Homo sapiens: one gene and its partners. The protein of the gene in region 5 purifies or fractionates together with the protein of the main gene of each other region. This does not show direct contact. Each region holds a gene or a part of one and is shown on either strand. Other genes may lie near its edges.

Region 1 (4,385 bases), about 14 Mb from region 5:
GTGCAATCTGTTCTTGTAATTTTTACCTGAGTTTTAAAGATCATAAATATATACACATGCTTTTTAGTTTTAAGTCCTCATTTCCCTCAGTTTCTTACTTACGTTAACTTCAGGATAAGCTTGTTTGAAAAGCTTAGATGGAATCATTTAAAATAAAGAAAAATTGGGATTTGCTTCTGGGAGTCCCTGCTATGAGAAATGACTCAAAAGGCCTTTAAGGGCCACAAAGTTACTTACTGATTGATGTTTGCTATAGTGTCCATCCAGCTGCGAATGCGCACCTTATTCCGGACATTGGGAGGGTTACTGAATTCATGGATAATACAGATGTGATAGGGGTAGGGACCACTAAATAGCTTCTGCTCCAAAGTTAGAGTGTCCACCTGTGGAAGACATCATAAAGAGATGTCTTCAACAAAGAGAATGCCTTAGAAATCTCTCTCCGAGAGCTTGAACAATCTTTCCATGGACCTTCAGTTTTGAAATCTCTGGCTGATTTGAAAATCAAATAGTCACATTCAGACCTGAAAACAGTCTGTCATGCTGGGAATAATTTTGCAAATTCTTCTGTCTAGGGAACTTGGCAATTTATATCTCACTGTTATATTTAAATGCCTACTAAACCAGAGAATCCTGATTGAGATAAATGACGTCAGTCAACTCAGAATCCACTTCTGTGTATGTCCTTTATTAAGTACTGACTGCATTATAGAACTGTGAATGTGTAGTAACATATACCCTATTCAAATGAGACTGCTGCCCAGTCTTTAAGAGAGAATGCATTTTCTTGTCTTCTAGGAGCCTTTGATAACATTGCTTTTTTCTCATGGCATACCCTCCCCCATCTCTAGTTATGAAATCTCACTCGGCCATCTGCGTGGCATAAGTGTTTGTCTCCTTTTTGGGAAGGCAAACTCCTTGAGGGAAGGATCATGTGTTGTGTTTTTATTTGCACCCAGCATATTTTAAGTTTTGAGACACTTGACAATATGATGAACTGACTCTTTTGAGGCCAGGCTTACACACTGATTACAAAGAGGCATTTAAAATTTCCTTTAAACCCTCTTTTGGCATTAAGCACAGAACCTTATATACAATATACTCTTAATAATGATAATGACACTAACAGTAGTTATATGATGGCTTACTATATACTAGCACATGTTTTAGAGTTTCACATATATTAAATATCACAATAATCCTGGGTATATCATTATTATTCTAATTTTACAGATGAAGAAACTAAGACATCGAAGTCAAATAATCTGCTACAGGTCAGACAGCCAGAAATTTAATCAGGCAGTCTGAACCAGAGACTGTGCTCTTAAACCACAGGTAACTTTTAATAAGTATAAAAACCTGTTGAATAACAACTCCCTATATCATACATAACCTGTAAAAACTAAAATATCATTACTGTAGGTTGGGCAAGTGAATGAATGCCAAATCCAAAAGGCTAAAGACTAACAAGAAAAAGAAAAAGAAAAACACCACAATATGTGTATCATCGGAAAGAAGCAAAGCTCGTTACCTGCTGCATTGGGCGTAGGTATATGATGCGGTTTCTCTCGGGTGGCATTCTTAGTATCTGGTCTAGTACCTGATCCATGTTCAGTTTCTTGCACTGTGCATAGTCAAATCGGTTTACAATTGGTGCATTTTCTACCTTTAAATGTTTTAGTACCCTGCACCTGGTAGCTACAAAATGAAAACAATGGTAAGCTCCGTACATATCATCTTTGGAGAGATGGCCTAATTTTTGTTGGCACAAAATACTGCAGTAACAAACATCTTTAACAGAGGTCAAATAATATCATAGAGTACAAATCACAGTTAACAAAAAAATTTGAAAATGTGGTTCTGTTCAATTCAAAAGAAGGTAGAAGGGGCATTAAAGTGCCTTTTTCTAAGATTTTACTGTTAAGAAAACCAAGTCTCAGAAAATGACTTGCCCAGACAGAAACTGTTTAGGAAATATTTATTTAAAAAATGAGTAACTATTATACATTTTTATAGTCAATAGTCAGACCTGAAATAATTCACCTATGTTACCTTACATTCACTCTCAGGAATGAGCAGAGTTGGATTTTAATTCCTGTCACAAACGTAAAAGTAGAACCTTGAAAAAAAAGACCCAGAAACACATTTGGATACTTTGGTCTAAAGCTATTCAGTCCAATCTAGTAGCCATGTGGTTAGTGGTTACCATAATACTGAACAGTGTAGACACAGAACATTAAAGTTCTATTGAAATGCTCATCTAAAACATGATTAGTTTTTCTGTTTGACATATAAAACATGAAGTCAGAAAAAAGTAATTTTGATATAATAAACACATTTAACTGAACTAGTATATCAACTTCAGAAAAATATTTCCTTCTCTTTTTTTAATCTCCAATTTCAACCTGGTCCAATTTTCACTGCAGATTTCAACCAGGTCCAACTTGAGAGAGATCAAATGGAAAAGATTATAAAACCACAGGCTCATTTGTCTGATCTTAACATTTCACAGACATCTGTAACATCCTTGACCCAAATGTCATCATCGTCTTGTGCAATCTAATGTAACTAACTTGACATTTAAACACTGAGAGAGACTCCCGCCTCTCACGTTCATTTTCTCCTTTTGTGACTTGGTGGAAAGAAGGGGAACTGTTGTTGAGGACAGCAACAGAGGAAAGGAGAGCGCTAGATGACAGTAAGGATCCAGTGGTTCTTAGCTATAAAATCCGACATGACTAAGGTCAGTTCTAATCTCATTTAATCATCTCCGCTGTCATTAACTTAGCCACTACCTACAGACTAAGCTAAGATCCTCTCACCACGATAAGCTGAGCCAAACAATTTGGTTTAAAGGGGAGAAGGTTGGGCCTGAGGCCGTGTGATCCATCATTAGGTTAGAGAAGGTACAGGAGAAATCATCAAAGTAAAAAGAAGAAAACTAGTCAGATTCTCGGAGAGCTCAGAGTAGAGAAAGGAATGGAACGAGATGCCGACTGGCAGAGTCTGAAGATTGAGTTTTACATTCTCAGAGCTCAAAGGGTGTAGGTACTGACAGAATGAAAGTTCTTCCAGTGCTACTGTAAGGCTAGGGTGAGTACCCCTACTGTTACAATCTCTGAGCTTTTGAAGAGCCTGTGTTCTCCACTGTAAAAGGAAACTCCAATAGGAGATAGTAATTTAAGATGTTTTAGGACCAAAGACCACATTGGCTGGGATAGAGAAAAGTACTACTACTTCAGAGTAAACAATAGAGTCTGGGGTCCCCAAGGTCTGAACTTTTGTAGAATTCAGAGGAGAAGTAGTGCTTGAATCTCAGTTTCATCTCTCCTTTCTTGGGTTCTCCTCAGTTTATGACAATATGTTTGGTAAATACCTTTTAATGGGATTTCTTTGTTTACTACTAATATGGTAGGAGATATAAAACAAAATAGACCTCAATATTTTTTGGCAATACAGGTTGACGAACCTTTATCTGAAATGCTTGGGACCAGAAGTGTTTTAGATTTCAGATTTTTCTTCAAATTTTGGAGTATTTGCATTATATACTTACCCTAATCAAAAAAATCTGAAATCTGAAATGCTGCTCCAATGAATATTTCCTTTGAGCATCATGTTAGTGCTCAGAAAGTTTTGAATTTTTAAGCACTTGGGCTTTCTGATTTTTAGATTAGAGATGCTCAACGTGCACTAACATAATACAAATTAACATCACTAGGCATTACTAGAGGTCAGACCCTGTACTGTGTGTGTGGGTGTGTGCATATGTCATGTATATATATACATATACAGGCATTTCTCATTTTATTGCACTTTATTGTGCTTCGCAGACATTACACTGTTTACACAAGGTCTGTGGCAACCATGAATTGAGCATCTACTGGTGCCATTTTTTTAGTAAGCACGTGCTCCCTTTGAGTCTTTGGGTTACACTTTAATAATTCTTGCAGTATTTCAAACTTTTTCATTATTATTTTATCCATTATGGTGGTCTATGATCAATGATCTCTGATGTTACTGTTTTAATTGTGGGGTGCCACAAACTGCACCAATATAAGTGAACTTAATAAATGTTGTGTGTGTCCTGACTGCTCTCCCAACAGGCTGTTCCCCTGTCTCTCTCCCTTTCCTCAGGTCTCCCTACTCCCTGAGATACAATGATGTCGAAATTAGGCCAATTAATAACACTACAATGGCCTCTAAGTGTTCAAGTAAAAGGAAGAGTCACAAATCTCACTGTATTTTTTTATTTATTTTTTTGAGATGGAGTCTTGCTCTGTCGCCCAGACTGGAGTGCAGCTGCGCAGTCTCGGCTCACTGCAAGCCCCGCCTACCGGGTTCATGCCATTCTCCTGCCTCAGCCTCCCTAGTAGCTGGGACTACAG
Region 2 (4,354 bases), on a different chromosome or scaffold from region 5:
TTTTAGAGTTATGTAGGCCCTCAAAATATGAATTAAGGAGCTGTCTATGTATATGCCTATCTTAAGTGTGATTGAAATAGTCTCACTATGATCTTGTGTCTGTCTCTTCTCTTTTGCTATAGATGTGTCCCAAACATGGCACAGACTTTTTGGAATATAAATGTCGCTACTGCTGTTCAGTGGCTGTTTTTTTCTGTTTTGGAACAACACATTTTTGTAATGCTTGTCATGATGATTTTCAAAGAATGACTAGCATTCCTAAGGAAGAACTACCACACTGTCCTGCAGGTATGCTTTTAATATTTTAAAATCACGATTATGATCTATATACCATAGTTTTATGTAAACATTATATGAAAGCTCTGTTTCAAGTGACAGAAACTCAATTCAAACTAGCCTAAAGAAGCAGGAGGAATTCCTTGATCCTTGTAAGCTTATGACTTTCTGGGTGAATTAGGAAGCAGGCTCATCATCATGAGTGAGAAGTTAGCTGTGACGGAGCAGATCTCATGGGGAGTGAGAATGAAGTCTACTAAGGATTGGTGAAAAGATGGCTGTTCAGCACTAAAAAGTCATATGAAGTTCAATATTACAGAACCATTTAAAAGGATTCTGTGATTTTTTTTTTTTTTTAACGAAGCCTGGAACCGTTGCCATAAAATGAACCAAGTGATTTAATCTAGAATGGCTGGGAATCAGTAGTGTAGTGAGCATCAGAAAGTCAAGGGAATTAAAGAAACCACTCAGAATACAGGAGAAATTATTGTCTATGGAAAGCAGGCTGAGGGGAAAGAAGTATGAAACCAAAAAGAAGCTGAAAATACTGGAAGAGGACAGGAGGCTAGTGGCAACGGTGAGGTGGAATACCAGGCTTCACGGAAGTGAGAGAAGTGGAAGGAGAGGTCCGTGCAACCATAGGAGAGAATTTTACATAAGATATATCTGAAATTAGTGAAAATACATGCACAAGTACATACAACACAATATACCGTGTTGTCAAAGCTAGAAAACACACACTGCCATCTGCTGCCTATCAGAGTGCAAGTGATAGACCTCTCCGGAAAACAGCTTAATAGTGCCTCTCAAAATTACCAGCGTATCAACCCTTCAGCACTCCCTCTTCAGGGATATAGCTACAAATGTGAGGACAGTAAAAAAGGGCAAATAAACAAGGTTATTAACTACAGCTTTGCTATGATAATAAAAATGTATAAACAATGCTAGTGTCCAGTAGGGTAGTGGCTAATATTACGCATCAGTTTAAAAAAAAAAAAGAGTGAGGATGGTGTTTCTGTGTGCTGATTTGGAAAGATCTTCAGGAGATAGCATCAGATGAAAAAAGTAAATTAGGCCAAGTGGTGTGACTGACACCTGTAATCCCAGCACTATGGGAGACCGAAGCAGGTGGATCACTTGAGGTCAGGAGTACGAGACCAGCCTGGCCAACATGGTGAAACCCCATCTCTACTAAATGTACAAAAATTAGCCAGGCATGGTGGCGGGTACCTGTAATCCGAGCTACTCACGAGGCTGAGGCCAGAGAATCACTTGAGCCTGAGAGGCGGAGGTTGCAGTGAGCCAAGATTGCGCCACTGCACTCCAGCCTGGGCGACAGAGCTGTTTCAAAAAAAAAAAGCAAATTGCAGAACAGAGTATGCAGTATGCTGCCTTTTGTAAGAGGGAAAATGAGACTATCTAGTCATATTTGTTTATATTTACATAAAGAAACCCCTGGAAAGATACTCAAGAAACTAATACTATTGATTAACTATTGGGAAAAGCAAGAAAAAGATGAGGGTAGAGACTAGGGAAAGTTGCTTCCAATTGTGTTATCATTTTTAACATTTTGATTTTAAACCATGTGAAACATATACTATCCATTTCAAAATAAAGATAAGTAGGGTTTTTTCAAGTATGACTACTTTTTACCATTTGCTCATGTCAAATAAAAATTGTTTTACTGTTTCTCCTCAAATACTGTTTTTTTTTAATAGAAGTAGCAGGCTTTGAAAGAAGCAAGGCCAGAATGATGTGAAGCCAGGTTATGGAGGATAATGGACAGAACAGAGATGTGAGCCATGCTTGGAGGGAGGGGGTGATGTGCTGGAGGTCAGCAAGTGAAGGGAGTGTGGAAAGGGCAGTATTCTAGATGACTCTAGATGACTTGAGCTTGGAGGAAGGGCAATTATTGAATGAAAGTTGTAGGTTGTGGTCTGGAAAGAAATAGGAGCCAAGAGAAAAATCAGTCACACGTTGTAGCCATATGACCTGGAGGAGCTTGGGAGATAACCAGCCTCCAGTTGAGAAAGATTTAAGGCAAGCAGTATCTTCAGGGGAAATCTAGATTTTACTTAAAGTTTCCTCTATGTTAAAAAACAGAAATAAGAATGCTAAAAATAAGGAAGTTAACAATGAAACACTTTAGAGAACTCAGTGGTGGGTAGTAGCTGAGAGAGGAGGGTCAGGTTTCCTCACAGGATCAGGGCAGCCAACACAAAGGAATCACAGGAGGGAGGCGGGGGAGGAGCCAGAGTTGGCAGAAGGAAGGAATGACCTCGGTCCTGGGCATTTTCACACATATTTGCTCCATTTTTACAATCTGCGAGTAGATGGTATTATCCCTATGTTATCAAATGGAAAATTGAGGGCTAGGGAGGTTAATGAACTGGCCTAAGAACATACACTGAGATTGAGGTATACTCTCCCAGCCTCACACATCCCTCTAACTCATCCATTCATTTAGAGAACTGGAATAGAATAAAGGAGATCCCACAGGGATGTGAGTAGGGAAGATGGCCATATACAGTTTACTTAGAAGGACAGAAGAAGCAATTCTCTAACCACTCTCAACCCTGTTAATTCTAATATTTTTAGATAATCAGTCTTCATCCATTCAAGCTGCTATAACAAAATACTGTAAACTGGGTAGCTTATAAACAGTGGAAATTTATTCTCACAGTTCTGGAGACCAGGAAGTCTAAGATCTAGGAATTAGCAGTCGAGGTGTCTGGTGAGGACCCACTCTCAGCCTCATAGGTGGCACTTTCTTGCTGTCGTGGAAGGGCAGGGGGCCTCTCCTGGGTCTCATTGATAGGAAGAGCACTAATCCCATTCATGGATTCCACCCCATGACCTCATCACCTCCCACAGCTCCACCTCCTAACACCATAACATTGGTGTTAATGTTGTAGTCTCAGCAGTGCACCAAGATATAACAGTCTCTCATTGTCTGAGATAATGCCAGGAGTTCTTTGTCCTACCTCCAAGAAGATTAAGGAGCACAGATACAAAGGTGAGGTTAGAGCGAAAGTTTAATAAGCAAAAGAAGAAAGCTCTCTGCCAGCAGAGAGGGGGGCCCAAACAGGATGCTCCCGTGAGGCTGGGGCCCAGGGTTTTTATGGACTGGAAAGGGGAAGGAATGTGCTTAGTCTGTGGGCTGTCTTGGCCCGCAGCGTGACTCAGCTTGGCCCGGGACCCTGGCCCAGGAACCCACTGGAGCCCACTGTGCCTATGCCCACAAAAGGAGAGAGCCCCCTGACTATACAAAGGACAAAGGCATTTCTATCCCAGGTCTTGTCCTTTATCTGATTGAAGGTTTTTCTGTCTGTGCAGCCGTGGGCATGTCTTTAGGCACAATGCCCTGTGCTAGTTCCCTCATCGGTGCCTGCAGCTTGACTTTTTTTCCCCAACTGCTTTTTATGTTATATGGGGATGAGGCACTGACCTGTGGACCTGGGGCTCTCTGGGGACCCTTCCCTTGCTATCTACCTAAGGCAAACTAACTCCTTTCATTAACACGTCAGTATATAAATTTGGAGGAGCACAAAAACATCCAGACCATAGCATAATCCCTCTATCCATTTCTTTCTAAAATATTTATTGACTACCTTCTCGTGCCAGGATACTTAATCTTCACAGCACCCCATGAGTTAGGTATTGCTGTGTCTATTTTAAAGATGAGGTATCTAAGAATCAGAAAAAATAATTTTACTTCAGTTTCATATCTACAAAATGAGGATAATCGTTTCTGCCTCCTATGACTGTTAAATGGTTAAGTAGCTGATATACTAGAACAGTGCCTCAGTAGTAAGCACTCAGATGTTTGCAGGTGTGTTTTCACTATTTTTATTTCTCACCACCATGTTGGATTGTGAACACCTTGAAGATGGGAGCCATGCACTTTTCATCTTTAATCCCAAGTACCTAAGAATGCCCTTCATATATTAGGCATGCGGTAAATATTTGTTGAGTAAATGACTCATTTTTTCCTTGAAAAAACCCAAGGGCTGCAGTTTGTGTCACCACCATTGATATGTTGTGTATCTGAACTAGATCTGCCATTGAGTGTCCCCAT
Region 3 (4,385 bases), about 40 Mb from region 5:
TATTAAACTTCTAGCATCCATAATAAGGGCTTTGAAAATTGACAAATGTCTCATATATATAATTTATAGTATGCATGTCAACATTCTGAATATGTCCAAGTGTAAACAAAATTGTTTGTGCCCCCTACAGAATTAGAAATCCTTGGGCAACACTGCTCTAATGATCCCATACCGTTAGTACTACAAAGTGTAAAAGTTCGCTGGGTAGGACAAGAGAAAAGGACAGAGTTCCCTCATTACACTATCCCTACACTATTTTGGCTTAAGTATTTATTAAGATATTAATTACTCTTCCTCCCTCTATCTGCCTTTAGACATTAGGCTGAGACACTGTAGATAGTTGCTCATCGTAAAACAATGCATTATCCAGTAAACCTTACCCCCCAAGATGAATGTTTTGTATGGAGCATTATTAATTCAGCAGGTGATATGTCTTAGAATTGTGAGGCTACATATACTCTCTCTTATGGACAACATAACGGCATGTTATGCTGATGCTATGTTTCCTTAAAGAAACAGCGTGTTTGGAAACTGAATTGGCAAGTTTTCTGCCTTCTGCATCCATCACAATAAAATTATTTTAGAAAATTTTTCTTGAGGTAGTATATGACACAAAAGGAAACAGAATTTGCATTTGTGACTTCTATAAAATGTCACACTGAAATAAGAATGATGCGTTTTGTAATTCTGAATTTAAAAACCCATTTAATCCAAGTAGACGACTATGGGAAATAAATGATGACAAATAAAAAAATTAATATTCTTGAAGAAAAACAAAACAATCTACATATAATAAAATATATACAAGGTAAAGAAAATAGTAAAGGAAAGTAGTGATCTCACTCACTCTGATATACAATTGCATCATTTCTTTTTCTCTTTGGGGGTTACGATACTTCTCATAGAAATCACGTCGCTTCTTTGTTTCTTTAGAAACTTTATCTTTTCTTTCCCGTTTTTCTGCTGGTTCATCTGAACTATCAGATGATGACTGTACGTGTATCTTCGGCTTTTCTACTTCAATATAGTTTTCATTGGGATTTAGTACTATTACTCCATATCCTTCCTGTTTTGAAATGAAAGAAGGTAGCATAATTTAAATCTTATAATCCATTTCAATTTTCAAAAAAGTTCTTAAAATTTCAGTCTAAGCAATTTTTATATAGTTGCATATTCATTAAAATACTCCTTTAGGCAAGATAATGATTTTATTTTTTTCAAAAGAAAGTCATTTAAAATTGTTTGCCTTTATTGTGTATATAAATAAGCTTTTATTATTTATAAGAACAAAAAATATAATTGCAACATAAAGATTATAAAGCTTAAATTAAAAAACTAATTCAGATATCTCAGAACCCAAAAATGACTGAAATAAATTAGCAAATAATTTATTTTCAAGTAAACTTTCAAATTATATTAATATTTATACTATCTGTTTTGAGAAAACAACCTCTGAAATCAAAGTTTACAATTCAAACTACATTTTTTTGTATATTTTTCTTTACAATGGCCCTTTCAAGAGCATTTTTTATTTGTCTGAACAATTAAAAAGAATAAGCAGTTAAAAAAGAATAAATCTGATTTAACATTACAAAACCATCCATACCTACATTATTATAAAGACATAACATCTACTTGTGTACCTTGAATTTTATTCACTTTGTTTCTCACAGGAGGCCAGAAAAATCATGTAGCAAAATAAGCCACTGTCTTACTATAATGTATGGAAGCAAGTCTTTAATCTTAAAATTTCTTTCATTTTTCAACCTACCATAAAAATTCTCTTTATTAAAAACTATAATCAGGAAATAAGCAAGGTTCCAAAGTTAAAAAATACAGCTTGTTGAGCTATTAAGGCTTTTTTTTTTTTAAATTTGTAAAACATGTTTTCCTGTCTCATTTCTTTCTAGCCTGGCAAACATTTCTGTGGTTATAATTAAGAAAACGTTTGATATTTATATTATGTCTAATGGAATAAGCTAACCATGAGAAAATATAGAGAGGGATAAACAATAACCATTGACAAGCATGGGTAACACAAATTTTTGAAGCTATTATATATCTTGTCTTTTCTATTCAGTTATGTGTTGTGAGGTTCCAATTATGTCCTTGTAAAATACTATAAGGTCATATTTAAAAGATGTATGATATTATAATAAAAACATAAGAGCTACAGAAAATAGCTCACAAAATCTATTTATTAGAAAATCTATTTAATAGAAAATAAAACTTATAAAATCTCATCCTTACTTAAAATAGGTAGTATATATAGTTTTTCAAGACAGTAACTGTAGAATCTTCTACTTGAAGTTTAAATTTTAAATTTTTTGCCAAACCAACCATAAGATGATTTTAAAAAATTGACAGCAGTAATAGTAAACCAGTAATAGCACAGACTCAATTATCTTATTTTAAAATATGCTGCATTACTGCACATGGTTGGTTTTTTTAAACAGTTGATTTCACAAACTACTTACAAACTTCTTTGGAATTGTTTTCTATTTTTTCCTCCATCAGATGATATTATTGTCTAAAACGATTATTTAGTTTGGAAATTTTCAAGATCACTGAAGTTCTGATTTTAATGATAGGACTATTAATTAAGATACAGTCATCTTACATATATGGAAACTATATAATAATATATAGCAAACTGATTTACAAACCACCACCCATTCTTCAACAGATGTTCAAATAAAGCTTTTAGAATAATGCTTCTTTCACAAAAAGCTTATAAAACACTTTACACATTCTGTAATTTAAACTTTCTACATCAAAGCAAAAGAGAATTTTTTTTAAAGTTTCTTAGCTCTAAGTCAAAAGTTTTACCAACAAAAGATATTTTATTTGGTCCTGCTTTATTCTAATCTGTATAGCTATTCAAAAGTCTTGTAATTCATTGTGATCACTGTCAGGTAGACAGATTGTCACTTGGTGATTTTCTACAGTTGGACACACTTGACTAGTTATTAAAATCACATTTGAAGGAAGTTCCTACCCCTCTTCCTTGTGCCTCTTACAACTTTTCACGCCCTTCTCAAATTTCAGCTATAACTTCTCCTCCCACCAAAAGTAAGTTAAAGAACACTGTTGCACTCTGCTAAACAGGGTGAAATAGAGGCATTCAGTACACTGTCTCTGGTGTAAGGAACATAGTCAAAAAAGGTCACCATAGGCCAAAAAGAAAATTGCCTCCCTACTAGATTCTGTACCGTGAGTAAGTGGTCTCCTGTCATGTTTCTTCCTTGCCTTCTCTGAGTGAATTGAACTTTAAACACACATACACACATACACATACACATACACACACACACACACACACACACACACACACACACACACACCACCCTCTCATACTCAGGAGTTAAAATTAGCAAGACCAAAATAGAATCTTAAAATTAGTAGAGATGAAAATAGTGATATACTACATTTTAATGATAATATGAAAAATTTCAAATTCAAAAACTTCACTCAAGGTAAAAGAGTGGGACTTTAATAAGCTGAAATAACATGGCATCATCTTTGTATAATGAATAAATCTCAAATAAAGGTAAACTCTTTGAACAAAATTTACAGTCACCAGAATTGTAAGACTATTATCTTATTACTTAATCAAAAAAATAATATTTTCATATCTGGCTTATTTGAGCAGAACTTTAAACTTCAATTTTTAGAAATCATAGATTGAAAAATTATCGTGCCTACTTAATTTGAAATAAGACTCTGAAATTTGATATGTTCCATGTAAATAAGTATTTTAAAAAAGGCATTTATATATCATCAAAGAAGCAGTATTTGTCTAAGTAACTGAAAATTACATGACTCATCTGTTCAATATCATAAAGGCACAATGTCAATGTTTCCCTTAGGCATCAACAGATGAGAAATGATTCTATTTTTAAATCACCACTATATAAATCAATTGAAGATTTGTTATCATTTAGATTTCAACAATGGATGCTTCTATTTAAACACCCAAACTATTTAGAAAATATTTTATCCTTTAGATATTTCAGATTGCCAATTTAATTAATGTGACAACAATCAAGAAATACTCAGGAACATTCTCTGTAGAAATGAGAGTGGATTTTAATAAATATCTTTGTTGCAAATTCAATTACTGTTCTGTAAAAAAACTAACATTTAAAATTAAAATATTTCTGTTAAATTAATTAATGCAATATTCACAGAGATCATTCATAACCATTTTGTAATGAGTAGCAGAAAGCAGGAGTAAGAAAATAAAGTTAACTATCCCACCTATGTGCTCTAACCACAGATATATAGTAAAACTTAATGTTTCCCTTCTTTTCTCTGTCATATGTAACACTGGCAAAAATTTCCTTTATATAAGCTACCAAGATTTTTGCCATGTCAACATCAAT
Region 4 (4,385 bases), on a different chromosome or scaffold from region 5:
CATACATTTTAGAAATATTTCTATCTTGTGCTCACTTCAGCAGCCCATATACTAAAATTGGAACGATACAGAGAATATTCATATGGCCCCTGTACGAGAATAACACAAAAATTTGTGAAGTGTCCCATAAAAAAATAAAAGTAATAAACATAATTTTTTTAAACAATAAATATTTCTATCCAAAGTGGAAGAATATTTTAAGCATTGGTGCTTAAAGGAGTAAGCATTAGTTATCAGAAAAATCCTGAACAATGCCTAACCTGGAAGGTGTTTCTGTATCATCCAGTATTCTTAGAACTGCAAAGAAGCTAAGTAAACCTTCTGGCAGCTTTAGAATGCAGAAATCATTGGCAACTTCACCATGTTTTTATTTGAAAAAAAAAAATACCATAGTATTGGCCAGGCGTGGTGGCTCATGCCTGTAATCCCAGCATTTTGGGATGCCAAGGTGGGCAGATCACTTGAGGTCAGGAGCTTGAGATCAGCCTGGCCAACATGGTGAAACTCCGTCTCTACTAAAAATACAAAAATTAGCCGGGCGTGGTGGCGCGTGCCTGTAATCCCAGCTACTTGAGAGGCTGAGGCATGAGAATTGCTTGAGCCCAGGAGGCAGAGGTTGCAGTGAGCAGAGATGACACCACTGCACTCCAGACTGGGTGACAGAGCAAAACTCTGTCTCAAAAAAAAAAAAAAAAAGGAATAAAAAAGAAAATATCATAGTATTTATTAAAGAAAAATTTAAAATTTCCTGAAGAGTCTGGACCATAATAGAAAAAAAAAAGAAAATTCCATAGTAGACATTATTCTACAAGGGATATAAAGTGGTCACCCATCACACCTACCTCAAAAGTCACACACACAGACCCACACATAAATAGAGAGAGAGAAAGAAACAGAGATTGAGAGAGAGAGTGCAAATTAGGCAATAGGGGAAAATGGAATAAAATATTCTGAAACAGATATAACCTGGTCCTAGGGCTAACTTTAGGAAAAATGGTGAAGGAAGCAAAGTTTATCTGGGGCAAAGCTACCAGCATTGCTAATAATAATATCTACCATGCAGAGAATACTTACTACATTCCGGGCACTCTTCTGGGGCCTTTACATATATGAATTCCTTGAAATGTCACATGATTCTATCAGACATTCAAAGAAAAATTGGTACCAATCCTTCTAAAACTATCCCAAAAGACAGAGAGAGATAATCCTCCCTAAATCATTCTATGAAGCCAGTATTACCCTCAAACCAAAACCAGAAACAGACATGACAAAAAAAGAAAACTACAGACCAGTACCCCTGATGAACATAGATGCAAAAATTCTCAACAAAATACTAGGTAACTGAATCCAATACCATATCAAAAAGATAATACACCATGATCAAATGGGTTTCATACCAGGGATGCAGGTTTGGTTTAACACATGCAAGTCAATAAATGTGATACACCACATAAACAGAATTAAAAACAAAAATCACATGATCATCTCAATAGATGCAGAAAAAGCATTTGACAAAATCCAGCATCCCTTTATGATTAAAACCCTCCACAAAATCAGCATGGAAGGGACATACCTTAAGGTAATAAAAGCCATCTATGACAAACCCACAGCCAACATTATATTGAACAGGGAAAAGATGAAAACATTCTTCCTGAGAACTGGAACTGGACAAGGATGCCCCCTTTCACCATTTCTGTTCAACATAGTCCTGGAAGTCCTAGCCAGAGCAATCAGACAAAAGAAAGAAATAAGGGGCATCCAAATCGGTAAAGAGGAAGTCAAACTCTCACTGTTTGCTGATGATATGATTGTATACCTAGAAAACCCTAAAGACTCATCCAAAAAGCTCCTAGATCTGAAAAATGAATTCAGTAAAGTTCAGGATACAAAATCAATATGTCAGTAACACTACTATACACCAACAGCAACCAAGCTGAGAATCAAATCAAGAACTCAACCCCTTTTACAACAGCTGCAAAAAAAATAATATACTTAGGCATATACCTAACCCAGGAGGTGAAAGATCTCTACAAGGAAAACTACAAAACACTGCTGAAAGAAATCATAGATGACACAAACAAATGGAAACACATCCCATGCTCATGGATGGGTAGAATCAATATTGTGAAAAAGACCATACTGCTAAAAACAATCTACAAATTCAACGCAATTCCCATCAAAATACCATAATAATTCTTGACAGAACTAGAAAAAACAATCCTAAAATTCATATGAAACCCAAAAAGAACACACATAGCCAAAGCAAGATTAAACAAAAAGAACAAATCTAGAGGCATCACATTACCCGACTTCAAACTATACTACAAGCCTGTAGTTACCAAAATAGCATGGTAGTGGTATAAAAATAGGCACATAAACCAATGACACAGAATAGAGAACCCAGAAATAAAGCCCAATACTTACAGCCAACTGGTCTTTGACAAAGCAAACAAAAACATAAACTGGGGAAAGGACACCCTATTCAACAAATGGTGCTGGGATATTTGGCAAGCCACATGTAGGAGAATGAACCTGGATCCTCATCTCTCACCGCATCTCTCATCTCTCACCTCTCTACAAAAATCAACTCAAGATGGACCAAGGACTTAAATCTAAGACCTGAAATCATAAAAATTCTAGAAGACAACATTGGAAAAACTCTTCTAGGTATTGGCTTTGGCAAAGAGTTCATGACCAAGAACTCAAAAACAAAGGCAACAAAAACAAAGATAAATAGATGGGACCTAATTAAACTAAAAAATTTCTGCACAGCAAAATAAATAATCAGCAGAGTAAACAGACAACTCACAATGTGGGAGAAAATATTCCCAAACTATGCATCTGACAAAGGTCTAATATCCAGAATCGACAAGGAACTCAAACAAATCAGCAAAAATAAATAAATAGATAAATAAATAAATAAATAAATAAATAAATAAATAAATAAAGTAGAAATAAAAATAAACAAATAGGCCGGGTGCGGTGGCTCACGCCTGTAATCCCAGCACTTTGGGAGACCCAGGCGGGCGGATCACCTGAGGTCAGGAGTTTGAGACCAGCCTGGCCAACATAGTGAAACCCTGTCTCTACTAACAACACAAAAATTAGCCAGGCATGGTGGCGGGCGCCTGTATTCCCAGCTACTCAGGAGGCTGAGGCAGGAGAATCGCTGGAACCAGGGAGGTAGAGGTTGCAGTGAGCCAAGATCACACCACTGCATTCCAGCTTGGGCAACAGAGTGAGACTCAGTCTCAAAAAACAAAACAAAACAAAAACAAAAAACAAATAATCCCATCAAAAAGTGGGCTAAGGACATGAATAGACAATTCTCAAAGAACATATACAAATGGCCAAGAAACATATGAAAAAATGCTCAACATCACTAAGCACTGGAAATGCAAATCAAACCACAATGAGATATCACCTCACTCCTGCAGAAATGGCCACAATTAAAAAAAAAACAAAAAATATTAGATGTTGGCATGAATGTGGTGAAAAGGAAACACTTCTACACTGCTGGTGGGAATGTAAACTAGTACAACCACTATGGAAAACCTTAAGTATGGAGATTCCTTAAAGAAGTAAAAGTAGAACTACCATTTGATCCAGTAATCCTACTACTGAGTATCTACCCAGAGGAAAAGAAGTCACTATATGAAAAGGACACTTGCACACACATATTTATAGTAGCACAATTTGCAATTGCAAAGTTATGGACCCAGCCTAAATGCCCATCAGCCAAAGAGTGGATAAAGAAAATGTAATATACATATATATAATATGTATACATACACACACACACACACACACACACACCATGGAATACTACTCAGCCATAAGAAGGAACAAAATAATGGCATTCACGACAACCTGGGTGGAGGTGGAGACCATTATTCTAAGGGAAGTAACTCAGGAATGGAAAACCAAACATCATATGTTCTCACTTATAAGGGGGAGCTAAGCTATGAGGATGCAAAGGCATAGGAATGATGTAATGGGCTCTGGGGACTCAGGGGGAAGGGTGGGAGTAGGGTGAGGGATAAAAGACTCTACATTGGGTACAGTGTACACTGCTCAAGTGATGGATGCACCAAAATCTCAGAAATCACCACTGAATAACTTATCCATGTAACCAAACACCACCTACCTGTTCCTCCCAAACTATTGAAATAATATTTTTTAAAAAGGTCACACGAGTCCTATGAATTCGGTGCCACTATTATTCCCATTTTGTAGGTAGGAAGACTGAGGCCTAGAGTCATAGTTAAGTAACATGCCCAAGGTCACAAAGCTGCTAGTAAGAGAGAACTGAGATTTGAACCCAAAAAGTTTAGCACCACAGTCCATGCTTAAACCACAACTATTTGTCCACGGATAATATGACT
Region 5 (4,385 bases):
GACAGAGCAAGAATCTGTCTCAAAAAAAAAAAACCCCTCTCTAGATTACTTACAATGCCGGATACAATGTAAATGCTATGCAAATAGTTTTTATACTGTATTGTTTAGGGAGTAATGACCAGGAAACAAGTCTACATGTTTAGTGCAAGACACAGCCATCCATTTTTTTTCCCAATATGTTTAATCTGTGGTTGGTTGAATCCACAGATGTAGAACTCATGGATATGGGGGCTGACTCTTATGTTTTGAGACATAGCCTGGTTGGTATAAGTATTATAATGGAATTAGGAAATAGAAACTTTCTTCTGGTTTTCTTAGATTTGGGAATGGATGATGAAGGAGATGATGACCCAGTTCCTCTACCAAATGTGAATGCAGCAATATTAAAAAAGGTAAGGTCTTTAAAGAGTTTAAGTTTATTCTGCTTAATATATAACACCAATTGATTAATACAAGTAATTCAACAATCTATGTTAGAATTTTATAATTTACTGCTTAAAATTACATTTAAATTTGAATGTTCTTAAACACTTACTTGAGTGATGTTTGTATGTTCTTAAAATATACAGAAAAAAGTTCTGTCTGCTTTCTTGCCACAGTTGACTATTGTCATTTATTGGGCATCTGTACTGTGTCTACCTATGCAAACACTTCCCTAGGAAGGATGATCTACATGTAGAATATCTGGATCGCAGGTTGGCTTATATACCTAAATTTTGATAGATACTGTTAAATAGTCTTCTGTAAAGATACCACTTCTAGAGCATGGTGGAATTGAATCGTGACTGTCTTTCTTAGATTTATAATTTTGAAACGGCTAAAGTCAAAGGAATATGTAACACTTTGTTCCCATTTCTGTCCTTATCTATTCCAGTCCCCTTTCAGGTAGCAATTTATCCTTTCAGTATTTTGTAATACAGGTATTAACAAGTAAGTATATTTTTTTCCCACATTCTTTTTTTTTTTTTTTTTTTTTTTTTTGAGACCAGAGTCTTGCTCTGTCGCCAGGTTGGAGGGTAGTGGTATGATCTCGGCTCACTGCAACCTCTGCCTCCTGGGTTCAGGTGATTCTCCTGCCTCAGCCTCCTGAGTAGCTGGGACTACAGGCACACGCCACCATGCCCAGCTAATTTTTGTATTTTTAGTAGAGACAGGGTTTCACCATGTTGGCCAGGATGGTTTTGATCTCTTGACCTCATGATCTGCCCACCTCAGCCTCGCAAAGTGCTGGGATCACAGGTGTGAGCCACCGCGCCCAGCATTCTCCCCCATTCTTAAGGTAGCAAACTATACATTTCTATGTTTTTTTTTTTCCATATAACAAAATGAAAGGTGATATGTCTATGTTAGTTAATATATAGCATCTTTTTTTTTTTTGAGATGGAGCCTCGCCCTGTTGCCCAGGCTGGAGTGCAGTGGTGTGATCTCAGCTCACTGCAGCCTCTGCCTTCCGGGTTCAAGTAATTTTCCCTGCCTCAGCCTCCCGAATAGCTAGGATTACAGATGCCCACCACCACACTGGCTAATTTTTATATTAGACAGGTTTTCACCATGTTGGCCAGGCTGGTCTCCAACTCCTGACCTCAGACGATCTCCCTGCCTTGGCCTCCCAAAGTGCTGGGATTACAGGTGGAGCCACCATGCCTGGCTAACCTGAATTTTTTTGTGTTTGTTTGTTTTTTTGATCTCACTCTGTTGCCCAGGCTGGAGAGCAGTGGCACAATCTCGGCTCACTGCAGCCTCCACTTTCCAGGTTCAAGCAATTCTCCTGCCTCAGCCTCCCAAGTAGCTGGGATTACAGGCACTCGCCACCACGCCTGGCTAATTTTTGTATTTTTTAGTAGAGATGGGGTTTCACCATGTTGGTCAGGCTGGTCTTGAATTCCTGACCTTGTGATCTGCCCACCTTGGCCTCCCAAAGTGCTGGGATTACAGGCATGAGCCACCGAGCCTGGCATTTTTTTTTTTTTTTTTTTGAGACAGACACTCTGTCGCCCAGGCTGGAGTGCAGTGGCACGATCTCAGCTCACTGCAACCTCTGCCTCTTGGGTTCAAGTGATTCTCCCGCCTCATCCTCTCGAGTAGCTGGGATTACAGACACCCGCTACCATGCCCAGCTAATTTTTTTATTTTTGTAGAGATGAGGGTTTCACCATGTTGGCCAGGCTGGTCTTGAACTCCTCACCTCAGGCGATCTGCCTGCTTTGGCCTCCCAAAGTGTGAATGTTTTTACATGTGTTACTGGCCATTTACATTTTCTGCATTGTCTGTTTTCATTTCTCTGTTTTCCTAATGGTCTTAGAAAAATAGTGATAAAATATACATAACATTGATCATTTTCACTTTTTGAACGTGCACCATTCAGTGACATTAATTACATTCACAGTGTTGTGCAGCTATCACCACTAAGCATTTTCAGAACTTTATCATCCCACACTGAAACTCTGTACCCATTAAACTGTAACTTCCAATTTCGGTACACCCTCCCCCCTCAAAAAAAAAATTGGTACACCCTCCCCCCTCAAAAAAAAAAATTACGCTAGGTAAACACTATTCTACTTTCTGTATCTGAATTTAGCTATCCTGGATACATAATATATGGAATCATACAATATTAGTCCTTTTGTATCTGGCTTATTTCACTTAGCATAATGTTTTCAAGGTTCATCCATGTTGTTGTCTAATGAGCTTAAAAAATTGTGGTAAAATACACATAACAAAATTTACCACCTTAACCATTTTTAAGTGACAATTCAGTGGTATTATCTAATAGGCTTTTTATAAGAACTCTTTAAAAGTTTCTACCAGTTTGCTTGTCTTACGTTAATTCATGTTACGATTTAGAGGCTTTATTTTATCTAGTTAGATCTCATTCTTTATGACTTCTGAATATGTCTTGCAATTAACGTATTCTATTTTATACTAATGAAAAATGTTTCTAAAAGGATCTTTGCTTGTAGTCGAATGCCTGGTACATTCAAATGCCATCCAAAAGCTGGGGGTATAGCAGTGAACCAAAGAGACAAAATCTCTGCCCTTATGGAGTTTATGGTCTGAAGGGGTGGGGAATATGCAACATTAGAAATACATCAAATGGAAAAACTATGGAGAATAAAGAAGGGAATGGGGAATTTAAAGGGGTGAGTAGGTGAACAGTTAGCTGTTTTTAAAATAAAGATGGTCAGGAGATGTCTTACTGAGAAGATAATCTTTTTTTTTTTTTTTTTTTTTTTTTTTTTCTTGAGATGGAGTTTTGCTCTTGTTGCCCAGGCTGGAGTACAGTGGCACAACTTTGGCTCACTGCAGCCTCTGCCTCCGGGCTTTAAGCAGTTCTCCTGCTTCAGCCTCAGTAGCTGGGATTACAGGCGCGCGCCACCACGCCCGGCTAATTTTTTGTATTTTGAGTAGAGATGGGGTTTCACCATGTTGGCCAGGCTGGTCTCGAACTCCGGACCTCAGGTGATCCGCCTGCCTCAGTCTCTCAAAGTGCTGGGATTACAGGCTTGAGTCACCATCCCTGGCCGAAGATAATCTTTTAAACAAAGACGTGAATATTTGGGGGAAAAGAATTCTGGGATTTGGGAGCAAGTACAGTGACCTTAAGACAAGAGCATGCCCTGCCTTTTTAGGAAAGGCAAGGAGTTTAGTGGAAGCTAGAGCAAGAAGTGAGTAGATAAGGTCAGAGTTAAAGGGTTGGGTGATGTAGGGCCACTTCTGAGAATGAGAAGTGCTTGGTTTTTGGGGTTTTTTTGTTTGTTTGGTTTGTTTGTTTGAGATAGGGCCTCACTGTGTTGCCTGGGCTGGAGTGCAGTGGTGCAGTCATGGGTCACTGCACCTTCTACCTCCCGGGTTCAGGTGATCTTCTCACCTCAGCCTCCCGAGTAGCTGGGAGTACAAGCACATGCCACCACACTTGGCAAATTTTTGTATTTTTTGTAGAGATGGAGTTTCACCATGTTGCCGAGGCTAGTCCGGAACTCCTGGGCTCAAGCGATCTGTCTCCTTTGGCCTCCCAGAGTGCTGGGATTATAGGTGTGGGCCACCACACCCAGCCGAGAAGTTTTTTTTTTTTTTAAGCCTGTTTGTATTGAATATATATCATATTTTGAAGAATAATTACATGATGCCAAAACTATGGAAGTACAATAAAATCTCCTTTCCCTGTCTCTTATCTGATTGGAAACTGCTCCCCCCACAAAGTAATGTGGCATTTTTTTGTTTTTCTTTTTTACTGGCACCACCCGTTGTGAACCTAGGCATTAGTTTCTTTATATATCCTTTTAAGAGTTTTTTATTTTTAAATTTTTATTTTTTGTTAGTAGTGATAGTGATTTTTTTTTTTTTTTTTTGACAGAATCGCACTCTCTTGCTCAGGCTGGAGTGCA
Region 6 (4,385 bases), on a different chromosome or scaffold from region 5:
GCTAAATTTGTTTTACAAATTGCCATTCTTCCTTGGTAATCTACAATCTAAACTAAGCCAAACATATTCAAGCCTGTACTCCCTATTTTAAACATCTTTGGGGCTTACAAGTAGGAATTTCTCTAGATGTAGAAAAAAGGCTACCATTTAATTAAACAATTTAGTGAAAATATAATTGCCTTATTCTAAATATTAGTTTTTCAGAGCATATTAAAGAATTCTGGGACTTAAGGAACATTTCTTGTGGGAAAATCTTCAATTTTCAAAAAAAGAATGCTTGGCTAAGAATTTTTTTTTAATAACAAAACAAGTAACCACTTTCTGACATTACAGTATATTTATAGTAAGGTTTTCTTTGATTGACGTGAGTTATGCTTATCGTGATGGTTTTGGAGGGAACAAAAAATATTAATTTCTACCATATATTCCTTAAAGACTTGGGCATTTGTTTTATGTGGCAAGATTCACTGTTTCACTACTTTCTGGGAGACAGAAATATAAATTCATGTTTTATATATAAGTATGTAAGATGTATATTTAAACACACACAGACAACCTGCGTCGGCCTTCATTGTTTACACACTTCTTAATCTCATTGTCCTGTGATGACTGAGGCAACAGTTCAAAGATAGCTTTATATACTATGGGTCAAACAACTCAGCATTCTTTAAAGCATCATCTTTACATGTACAAAATAATACTAAAAATGAATAGCCCATGAACCAACCTACCATTCATTACCCAAGTCACTCACTATGGGGATAGGATAGGACTGAATTACATAAAGGATGGATAATACGACTTTGTATTAAAAGACTAGCTGGGTACACGGTTGGCATTCAAATGCTTGCTCATTAGATTAGTGATCGAGGAGAAGGGTACTCAAGATTTAAACACTTCTAAGACATTTGTCTGGGGTTAAGAAAGTGAATTTTGAAATTGAATTTTGAAACTAGTATCAAGAGCAATGTACTTCAAAACAAAAAATTAGAAACAAAAATGTAAATTAGCCTAACAGAACCAAGCTAGGCGGAGTAAACTCCAATGCATTTGTATACTAAATGGCAGCCAAGCACAAATCCCACACTTGAAAAATTATCAGCTTTTTCCTCTACAGAACACTAATTTTTTTTCCAGTAGAAGAAACCTAAGGCAGAGAACTGTGGATGCTGTACTACAGTACTCAATACTCTAAAATAAACTCAAAGAGAAAAAGGAAATAACAGGCAAACATTCTGGGAAAAAAAAAAAAAGACTCAATGGAGAAAAAGATGAAACAAAGCCTGTAAGTAGGTCACCTCATTGCTTTTGCTAATGCCAAAGTACCAATCCTTATCATTTTTATTACCAAGAGTTACTGAAGGAAAACACCAACCTTTGTGTTGGCTGCAATCCAATTGGAGGTTTCACTGTCATCATCACACTTTTTAATCCATTTCTTTAACCACTGTTTGAAAATAACAACGGTTAGGATACAACAAAAGACTTTTAAAAATAGCAAATTACTTTAGCACTTAACTATAGTCAAGCTTAAATGTAAAAGCCAATGAATAAGATTATCACTAGGCTCACATCCTCTTAAGCCAGGGAAATCCCATAGCTACAATGTCCAGTATATATAAAATCAACCAAAGCAGGATTTTCTTTGGCAGAAGCTGAGTGGGGAACCTAGAGCTTGAAGAGAAGCCCAACTGCAAGGTGTGTATTCCCCTAATTACAAAGCCTGACAAAGAGGTGCCTTAGCCATGGTTATCCTAATAACAATCAGGAGCTGACTTGGCTTATCCTAAGGAATTACCTCTGAATACATGTAATGATCATCTGAAATTAAAAGGATAAAAAAAAATCTATCAATAGATAGATAACAAAATCATCAGCTATGATTTTTAGTCACTAAGTCTTAGAAGTGTGCCATTATTTAAAAATTGAAATGTCAGACAAACTCACCTTACATTTAACAGGATCATGCCAATTTTCTCCACAGTTAAAGCTGTTAAGTGACACAAAGAGTTAATAGAATTAAGGCCTACCTACTGTAAGCAAGTAAATAAGCCAATCATTTCATGCCTTATAGTTCCACAGTATTGTCACTAGTTTCTAGTGACTGGCAAATACAAGGAGAGAACCCATGTCTGCTTTACAGTTAATTACCTAGAATTTAGTAGTAGAACTAGCACATAGTGGGTACTCAATATGTGTGAAGAATGACTATAAGCATGAAGACACGCTTTGATGACAATTTCATAATAATTGTTGCTAAGGTGCCTCAGACTATATTGAGAAGTTTCAACCCATGCTTCATCAGTGCATTTTTAATCTTTTACTTAACACCCTAAATGAAGAATAAAAGGCTGACTTTGTAGGTTACTTATATAATTTAGTACTAATACACAGTAAACAATATATGGGAAGCAAATAGGTCACATCTTTGCATTATTTAAACAAATGAACCTCCGCCCTGTAGAGGGAAATGGTACTGGGCAAGGTATAAAACAAAAAGACTAAATACTCACTAAACATGTGTTAATCAGTAATTCACTTTTGTTTTCTAAGTTCATGACATATACACTTGTAAAAGAAGTATAATTAACAAACACAAATGCTTAAGAAAAAAATAATAAAATGACAGATTAATTAGCTAATTAAGTAATTTACGAATGGCAAAAAGTCCTTTGCTAAAGACAGAAACAAACTACTATTGATTTAAATCAGGTTAAGATAAATGGTTATTTCTGAAAAGAAAGATGGGGAATGGGAAGGAGCAGGGAACCAAGGAGCTTCAAATATATGTGTCATGTTTTATCTCTTAATGAAGAAAAACAAAATACTAATTTTGATTTAACTGGATTGTAGCTATATAGGTATTCACTGCTGTATTCTCTATACTTTTATGTTTGAAATGTGTCACGCTAAAAATACATTGGAAAGTAGGTATTATCCACCTTTTCTCTAAAATAACAATACATAATTAATCTTTATCGAAACAGTATGTATTTTACACATACTTAATCTCTGTGAGCTTACCTGCTCTTTTTGGAAATATTTATTATTAATGATGTGTTAAGTGTAATTCTATAGATGTTTGGAGGAAAAAAAGAAAGGTATGGAATACCAATAAAATATTTCCCCCTCCAAACCACCCCGCAGCAAAAAAGAAAATCTGGCTGGCCATGGTGCTTCTCACCTGTAATCCCAGCACTTAGGGAGGGCCGAGGCAGGTGGATTACTTGAGGCCAGGAGTTCAAGACCAGCCTGGCCAACAAGGTGAAATGCTGTCTCTATTAAAAATAAATACATAAATAAATAAACAAATAAATAAATAAATAAAAATTAGCCAGGCGTGGTGGCACACGCCTGTAATCCCAGCTACTCAAGAGGCACAAGAATCACTTGAACCTGAGAAGCAAAGGTTACAGTGCGAGATCGTGCCACTGCACTCCAGCCTGGGTGATGGAGTGAGACCCTCTCTCAAAACAAAACAAAACAAAAAATCTATTTGCTGGGTCTAGAGCCCCTTGACTTGATTGGCTTCTTACTCCTCAAGACCCTCAAAGGAACAGAAAATCATCTTAACTTCTAGCAGGATATAAATGTTTGTGTCCCCCTAAAATGTGTATGTTAAAACTTAATAACCAATGTGACAGTATTAGGATGTGGAGCCTTTAGGAGGTGAATGGAATTGGCATCCTTTTTAAAAAAAAAAGGGGCCCAGAGAGCTGCCTTGTCCTTTCCACCATATGAGGACCCAGCAAGTAGGCACCATCTATGAACCAGAAAAGCAGGCCCTCGCCAGACAACAAATCTTTTGGCACCTTGATCTTGGACTTCTCACCCTTAAGAACTGTAAGAAATAAATTTATGTTGTTTAGAAGCCGCCCAGTTTATGGTCTTTTGTTATAAAAGCCTGAACATTAAGACAGAAAATGGTACCAAGAAGTGAGGGTGCTGTTCTAACAAAACCAAAAATGTGAAAGCCGATTTGAAACTAGGTAGTAAGTAGAGGCTGGAAGAGCTTGGAAGTGCAAGCTAGAAAAAGCCTAGATCACTGTGAATGAACTGAATTGTTAAGGGTAATTCTGGTGAGGATTCAGAAAGACAGAAGTGCAGGGAATGCCTCAATCATAGAGAAAACCTAAATAAATGGCCATGAACAGAATGTTGTTAGAAATATGGACAGTAAAGGCCATTATGATGAGGTCTCAGATGAAAATGAGGAACATGCTGTTAGAAACTAGAGGAAAGGCCATCCTTGCTATAAAGTGGCAAAGAAGTTGGCTGAATTGTTTTGTGGAAGGTAGAGAAATGAAACTGAATATCTGGTTGAGGAAATTACTAAGCAAAGTGTTGAAGACGCAGCTTAGCTTCTCTTGAATGTTTATAGAAAA
Region 7 (4,385 bases), on a different chromosome or scaffold from region 5:
CTCTTTTTAAAGTAAAATTTGTTGTAAAAAATGGCATGCCAAAAAAATATACTTTTCAGTCAACTGCCTTGAGAATATGCTATTTTCTAACCACAAGACAATTTTTCTGAGTCTCAGCACAGGAAACCAAACATCCAGTAAGAGGTGGCCTGACATAAATAAGTACTAAAAGACTAGCATTAAAATATGTTTTATAAGATAGATTTTTTTTCTGGAATGACTTTCTAAAATTATTTCTTGTACATTTCCTCCCCTTTCTCCTGTCTTTATTTTTTTAATGTTGTATATTATCCAAATTATGCCCCAGATTTAGATGAATCCTTCTTTCATGCTGATTCTGTTTTTTAGTCTCTTTTTCACTGCATCTTTTTCGTTGGCCTTAAATCCAAATAACTGCACATTTGACATGGATTTGAGGGCAGATATTTCTCTCATTAGTGTCATACCACCACTGACATAGTCCAGAATATAAATGTTATACATAAACATTTTCTTTGTTTATATAGTAACATTTGAAATATACTGTATGCTTATACAGGCACTTCTCTTTTACTGCTTGATACCATGTTGTTTTGGGTCTTGGGAGAGGGGTTTTATTCAAATAAATAACTTTTGGATTACAGCTTGGGGTCAGTTTAGTTTCTCGAAGCTGATCTTTATAATGATGATCTCCAGCTTTAGAAAAAATAGTGCGCTGCTTTCTAAATCAAAGATTCACTCAAGGGTTGGGCACAGTGGCTCAAACCTGTAATCCCAGAATTTTGGGAGGCTCAGGTGGGAGGATTGCTTGAACTAAGGAGTTTCAGACCAGCCTGGGCAACATAGCAAGACCCCTTCTCTTAAAAAAAAAAAAAAAAAAAAGGGGGGGCTGAGCACAGCTCATGCCTGTAATCTCAGCACTTTGGGAGGCCGACACAGGCAGATCACTTGAGGCCATGAGCTCGAGACCAGCCTGGCCAACATGGCAAAACCCCATCTCTACTAAAAATACAAAAAATTAGCTGGGCATGGTGATGCACGCCTGTAGTCCTAGCTACTCGGGAGGCTGAGGCAGGAGAATCGCTTGAACCCTGGAAGCAAAGGTTGCAGTGAGCTGAGATCACACCACTGCTCTCCAGCCTGGGCAACAAAGCAAGACTCAGTCTTTAAAATAAATAAATAAATAAATAAGATTTACTTGGCCAGGTGTGGTGGCTCACACCTGTAATTCCAGCATTTTGGGAGCCTGACGGGTGGATCACTTGAGGTCAGGAATTCAACACCAGCCTGGCCAACATGGTAAAACCCTGTCTCTACTAAAAATAAAAAAATTAGCTGGGCATGGTAGCATGAGCCTGTAATCCCAGCCACTGGGTAGGCTGAGGCAGGAGAATCACTTGAACCCAGGAGACAAAGGTTGCAGTGAGCCGAGATCTCACCACTGGGCAACAGAGTGAGACCCCATCTCAAAAACAAAAAAAAAAATACTGTTATTCTTACTCTAGCTCTAGTAGTTTACATATATTTTCTTATATTGGATTCTAATTCTTTGAAAACCAGTAGATTAATAAAGTGTTAGGGGTGGAAAGGATCTTTGTTTTTTTTTTGTTTTTGCAACAAGAGCCTCACTCTGTCATCCAGGCTGGAGTGCAGTGGGGTGATCTCGGCTCACTGCAACCTCCACCTTCTGGGTTGAAGTGATTCTCCTGCCTCAGCCTCCTGAGTACCTGGGATTACAGGCACCCGCCACCATGCCCAGCTAATTTTTGTATTTTTAGTAGGGATGGGGTTTCACCATGTTGGCCAGGCTGATCTTGAACTCCTGGCCTCAAGTGATCTGCCCGCCTTGGCCTCCCAAAGTTCTGGGATTACAGGGGTGAGACACCAAACCTGGCCAGGGCTAGAAAGAATCTTGAATATTATTTAGTTTGTACTTTCATGACACATATATATTCCTATTTATAGTGGGGAGAATGTAGCTAGTATTTGATTTGTAAAAACACTTTAATGACTAATCTTTTATATGTTGTATTTTTTTTTAACTCCAAAGGAAGTTCATGACCAATTGGCAAGTTAATGAGTGCAGGTGTTTTAAAATCTATGAGTTTAGAAGAAGCAAAAAATCACTTTATTCTAAGTGGTCCAGGAGGGTACTGTTACCAGTATTGTACTCTTGAAATGTTGTCTTCTTTGTCCTCTCAAAATGGAAGTGTTGCTTAGGTGGCCAGAACAGTTAACTTAGGTTTAATGTGACAAATACTGGAAAAGTGTTAGAAAGAGAATAATGGTATGCTAAGTAGATGGGAACTGGCAGATACGGCCTCTTGCAGCCAATAACCCAGGTGGTTGTCCGAAGAGCACCAATATGTTATAGTTAACTCCAGCAGATGAAAGAAGGAAGAATTGGGCAATAGATTCGTCTTGTTTTATCTCTTTTTCTAAATCCTATCCAAAGCTCCAAAAAGATATATGAAGCTAGTGTCATTTGAAAAAAAAAAAAAAATGAAAAAGCTCACCCCTCTAAAAAAAATGGCAATTATTTTTGAAGTGCATTAGAGTTGTGGCACTAAAGACTGAAAACACCTGAGGTTGCATGCCAGCCTGTGACAGGAAGCTGTCATCTCAATGACTTCTGACAAAAGAATTAAACTAGACTTGGTGATGGCTGGGCGAGAGACAACAAAAAATTGAGCTAGTGCCATTTCATACTGCAGACCAATTTTGAAGATTTAAAATGTAAATGCAGTCTAATAAAAATGTTAATGCACACACCCTTTGACCCAGCAAATCCATTTCTAGGATTTGGATATCCAAAAATGCTATCACATGTGCACAAGGATATGTGAGCAAGATTATTGACCAAAGTCAATAATTGTAAAAACATTTTTCCATGAGAGGAAATGTGGTTAAACTGTGATTCATTCATGCCATAGAATACTATCCAACTTTTCAAAAACAATGCGGTGGATCTCTGTTTACTCAGTAGACCAAATAAAATCTTTAGCAAGAAAAGCAAGTTGCTGGATTAAACATAGCATATCCTACTTTTTTAAAAAAGTGTTTTAAATAAATGTTAGTGAGGTTTTAAATAATTCTTAAAAGAAAAAGCTGGAATGATGCACTCTTAAGAGTTACAGATTTTTACTCTCCGCATTCATATTTCTGGAAGATCTGAATTTTCTACCATGAGCATTTATTTTTATAATCAGAGAAAAGCAATAAAGATTTAAAATGAAAGTGTAAATGGATAACTGTTACTTTGAGGTGGTGTCCTGCCTGTATTCCCCCTATTGGGCCAGCACCACCTTTCACCCACCTCCCTCATTGAATATTGAGGCTGAATATTGAATATTGAATATTGAATAGCTTTGATAGCTGTGTCCCAAACTCCTGCTGTTTTTGTGGAAGGAAAATAATTCTAATTCTACAGTTTTAGAGTGCAAATTGATTAATGATTAATTTTGCAATTTTCCTTGCAAAATTTTAAGGAGGATTTTTGGTGTTTTTGTTTGTTTTAGAGGCAGAATCTCATTCTGTCCCCCAGGCTGGTGTGTAGTGGTGCAGTCAGCTCACTGCAGCCTCAAACTCCTGGGCTCAAGCAATCCTTGCGCCTCTGTGTCCCAAAGTGCTGGGATTACAAGCATGAATTTCTGTACCCATCCTTAAGGAGGATTTAGTGTCTAGAAACTTCTGACCTTTTTTTCTTTTCATTTTTTTTTTTTCTTTTCTGAGACAGAGTCTTGCTCTGTCACCCAGGCTGGAGTGCAGTGGCATGATCTTGGCTCACTGCCTCCCAAGTAGCTGGGACTAAAGGCATGTACCACCCCGCCCGGCTAATTTTTGTATTTTTATTAGAGATGGGGTTTCACCATGTTTGCCAGACTGGTCTCAAACTCCTGACCTCAAGTAATCCGCCCGCCTCAACCTCCCAAAGTGCTGGGATTACAGGCGTGAGCCACTGCACCCGGCCTCTTTTTCTTTTTAATATAAGTAATAATTACCTTTGAGAAACTAAAGGAGCTGGGTATGGTAGCTCACACCTGTAATCCCAGAACTTTGGGAGCCTGAGGCAGGCAGATCACAAGGTCAGGAGATCAAGACCATCCCGGCCAACATGGTGAAACCCCGTCTCTACTAAAAAAAAATAGAAAAATTAGCCAGGCGTGGGAGCGGGCGCCTATAGTCCCAGCTACTGGGGAGGCTGAGGCAGGAGAATGGCTTGAACCTGGGAGGCGAAGCTTGCAGTGAGCTGAGATCAGGACACTGCACTCCAGCCTGGGCAACAGAGCAAGACTCTGTTTCAAAAAAAAAAGAAAAAGAAAGACACAGCCAGGCGCGGTGGCTCATGCCTGTAATCCCAGCACTTTGAGAGGATGAAGCAGATGGATCACGAGGTCAGGAGTTCA

Evidence for each region.
Region 1: the proteins of SKP1 (region 5) and FBXO38 purify together in Homo sapiens (affinity purification with mass spectrometry; 6 studies listed by BioGRID and IntAct, with this or other methods). This does not show direct contact.
Region 2: the proteins of SKP1 (region 5) and MYCBP2 purify together in Homo sapiens (affinity purification with mass spectrometry; 4 studies listed by BioGRID and IntAct, with this or other methods). This does not show direct contact.
Region 3: the proteins of SKP1 (region 5) and ARB2A purify together in Homo sapiens (affinity purification with mass spectrometry; 3 studies listed by BioGRID and IntAct, with this or other methods). This does not show direct contact.
Region 4: the proteins of SKP1 (region 5) and ARHGEF6 purify together in Homo sapiens (affinity purification with mass spectrometry; 3 studies listed by BioGRID and IntAct, with this or other methods). This does not show direct contact.
Region 6: the proteins of SKP1 (region 5) and ARIH1 purify together in Homo sapiens (affinity purification with mass spectrometry; 4 studies listed by BioGRID and IntAct, with this or other methods). This does not show direct contact.
Region 7: the proteins of SKP1 (region 5) and FBXO36 purify together in Homo sapiens (affinity purification with mass spectrometry; 3 studies listed by BioGRID and IntAct, with this or other methods). This does not show direct contact.

The regions. Positions count from the first base shown.
Region 1 is NC_000005.10:148,435,645-148,440,029, reverse strand, and holds part of FBXO38 (F-box only protein 38), read right to left. Parts: intron 1,699-4,385; coding exon 1,532-1,698; intron 384-1,531; coding exon 238-383; intron 1-237. UniProt on the Homo sapiens protein: Substrate recognition component of a SCF (SKP1-CUL1-F-box protein) E3 ubiquitin-protein ligase complex which mediates the ubiquitination and subsequent proteasomal degradation of PDCD1/PD-1, thereby regulating T-cells-mediated immunity.
Region 2 is NC_000013.11:77,046,931-77,051,284, reverse strand, and holds part of MYCBP2 (E3 ubiquitin-protein ligase MYCBP2), read left to right. Parts: intron 1-122; coding exon 123-288; intron 289-4,354. UniProt on the Homo sapiens protein: Atypical E3 ubiquitin-protein ligase which specifically mediates ubiquitination of threonine and serine residues on target proteins, instead of ubiquitinating lysine residues.
Region 3 is NC_000005.10:93,880,623-93,885,007, forward strand, and holds part of ARB2A (cotranscriptional regulator ARB2A isoform 1 precursor), read right to left. Parts: intron 1,067-4,385; coding exon 848-1,066; intron 1-847. UniProt on the Homo sapiens protein: Plays a role in the regulation of alternative splicing, by interacting with AGO2 and CHD7. Seems to be required for stabilizing protein-protein interactions at the chromatin-spliceosome interface. May have hydrolase activity.
Region 4 is NC_000023.11:136,773,972-136,778,356, forward strand, and holds part of ARHGEF6 (rho guanine nucleotide exchange factor 6), read right to left. Parts: intron 1-4,385. UniProt on the Homo sapiens protein: Acts as a RAC1 guanine nucleotide exchange factor (GEF).
Region 5 is NC_000005.10:134,163,177-134,167,561, reverse strand, and holds part of SKP1 (S-phase kinase-associated protein 1), read left to right. Parts: intron 1-318; coding exon 319-392; intron 393-4,385. UniProt on the Homo sapiens protein: Essential component of the SCF (SKP1-CUL1-F-box protein) ubiquitin ligase complex, which mediates the ubiquitination of proteins involved in cell cycle progression, signal transduction and transcription.
Region 6 is NC_000015.10:72,564,168-72,568,552, reverse strand, and holds part of ARIH1 (E3 ubiquitin-protein ligase ARIH1), read right to left. Parts: intron 1,991-4,385; coding exon 1,948-1,990; intron 1,448-1,947; coding exon 1,376-1,447; intron 1-1,375. UniProt on the Homo sapiens protein: E3 ubiquitin-protein ligase, which catalyzes ubiquitination of target proteins together with ubiquitin-conjugating enzyme E2 UBE2L3.
Region 7 is NC_000002.12:229,925,285-229,929,669, forward strand, and holds part of FBXO36 (F-box only protein 36), read left to right. Parts: intron 1-4,385. UniProt on the Homo sapiens protein: Substrate-recognition component of the SCF (SKP1-CUL1-F-box protein)-type E3 ubiquitin ligase complex.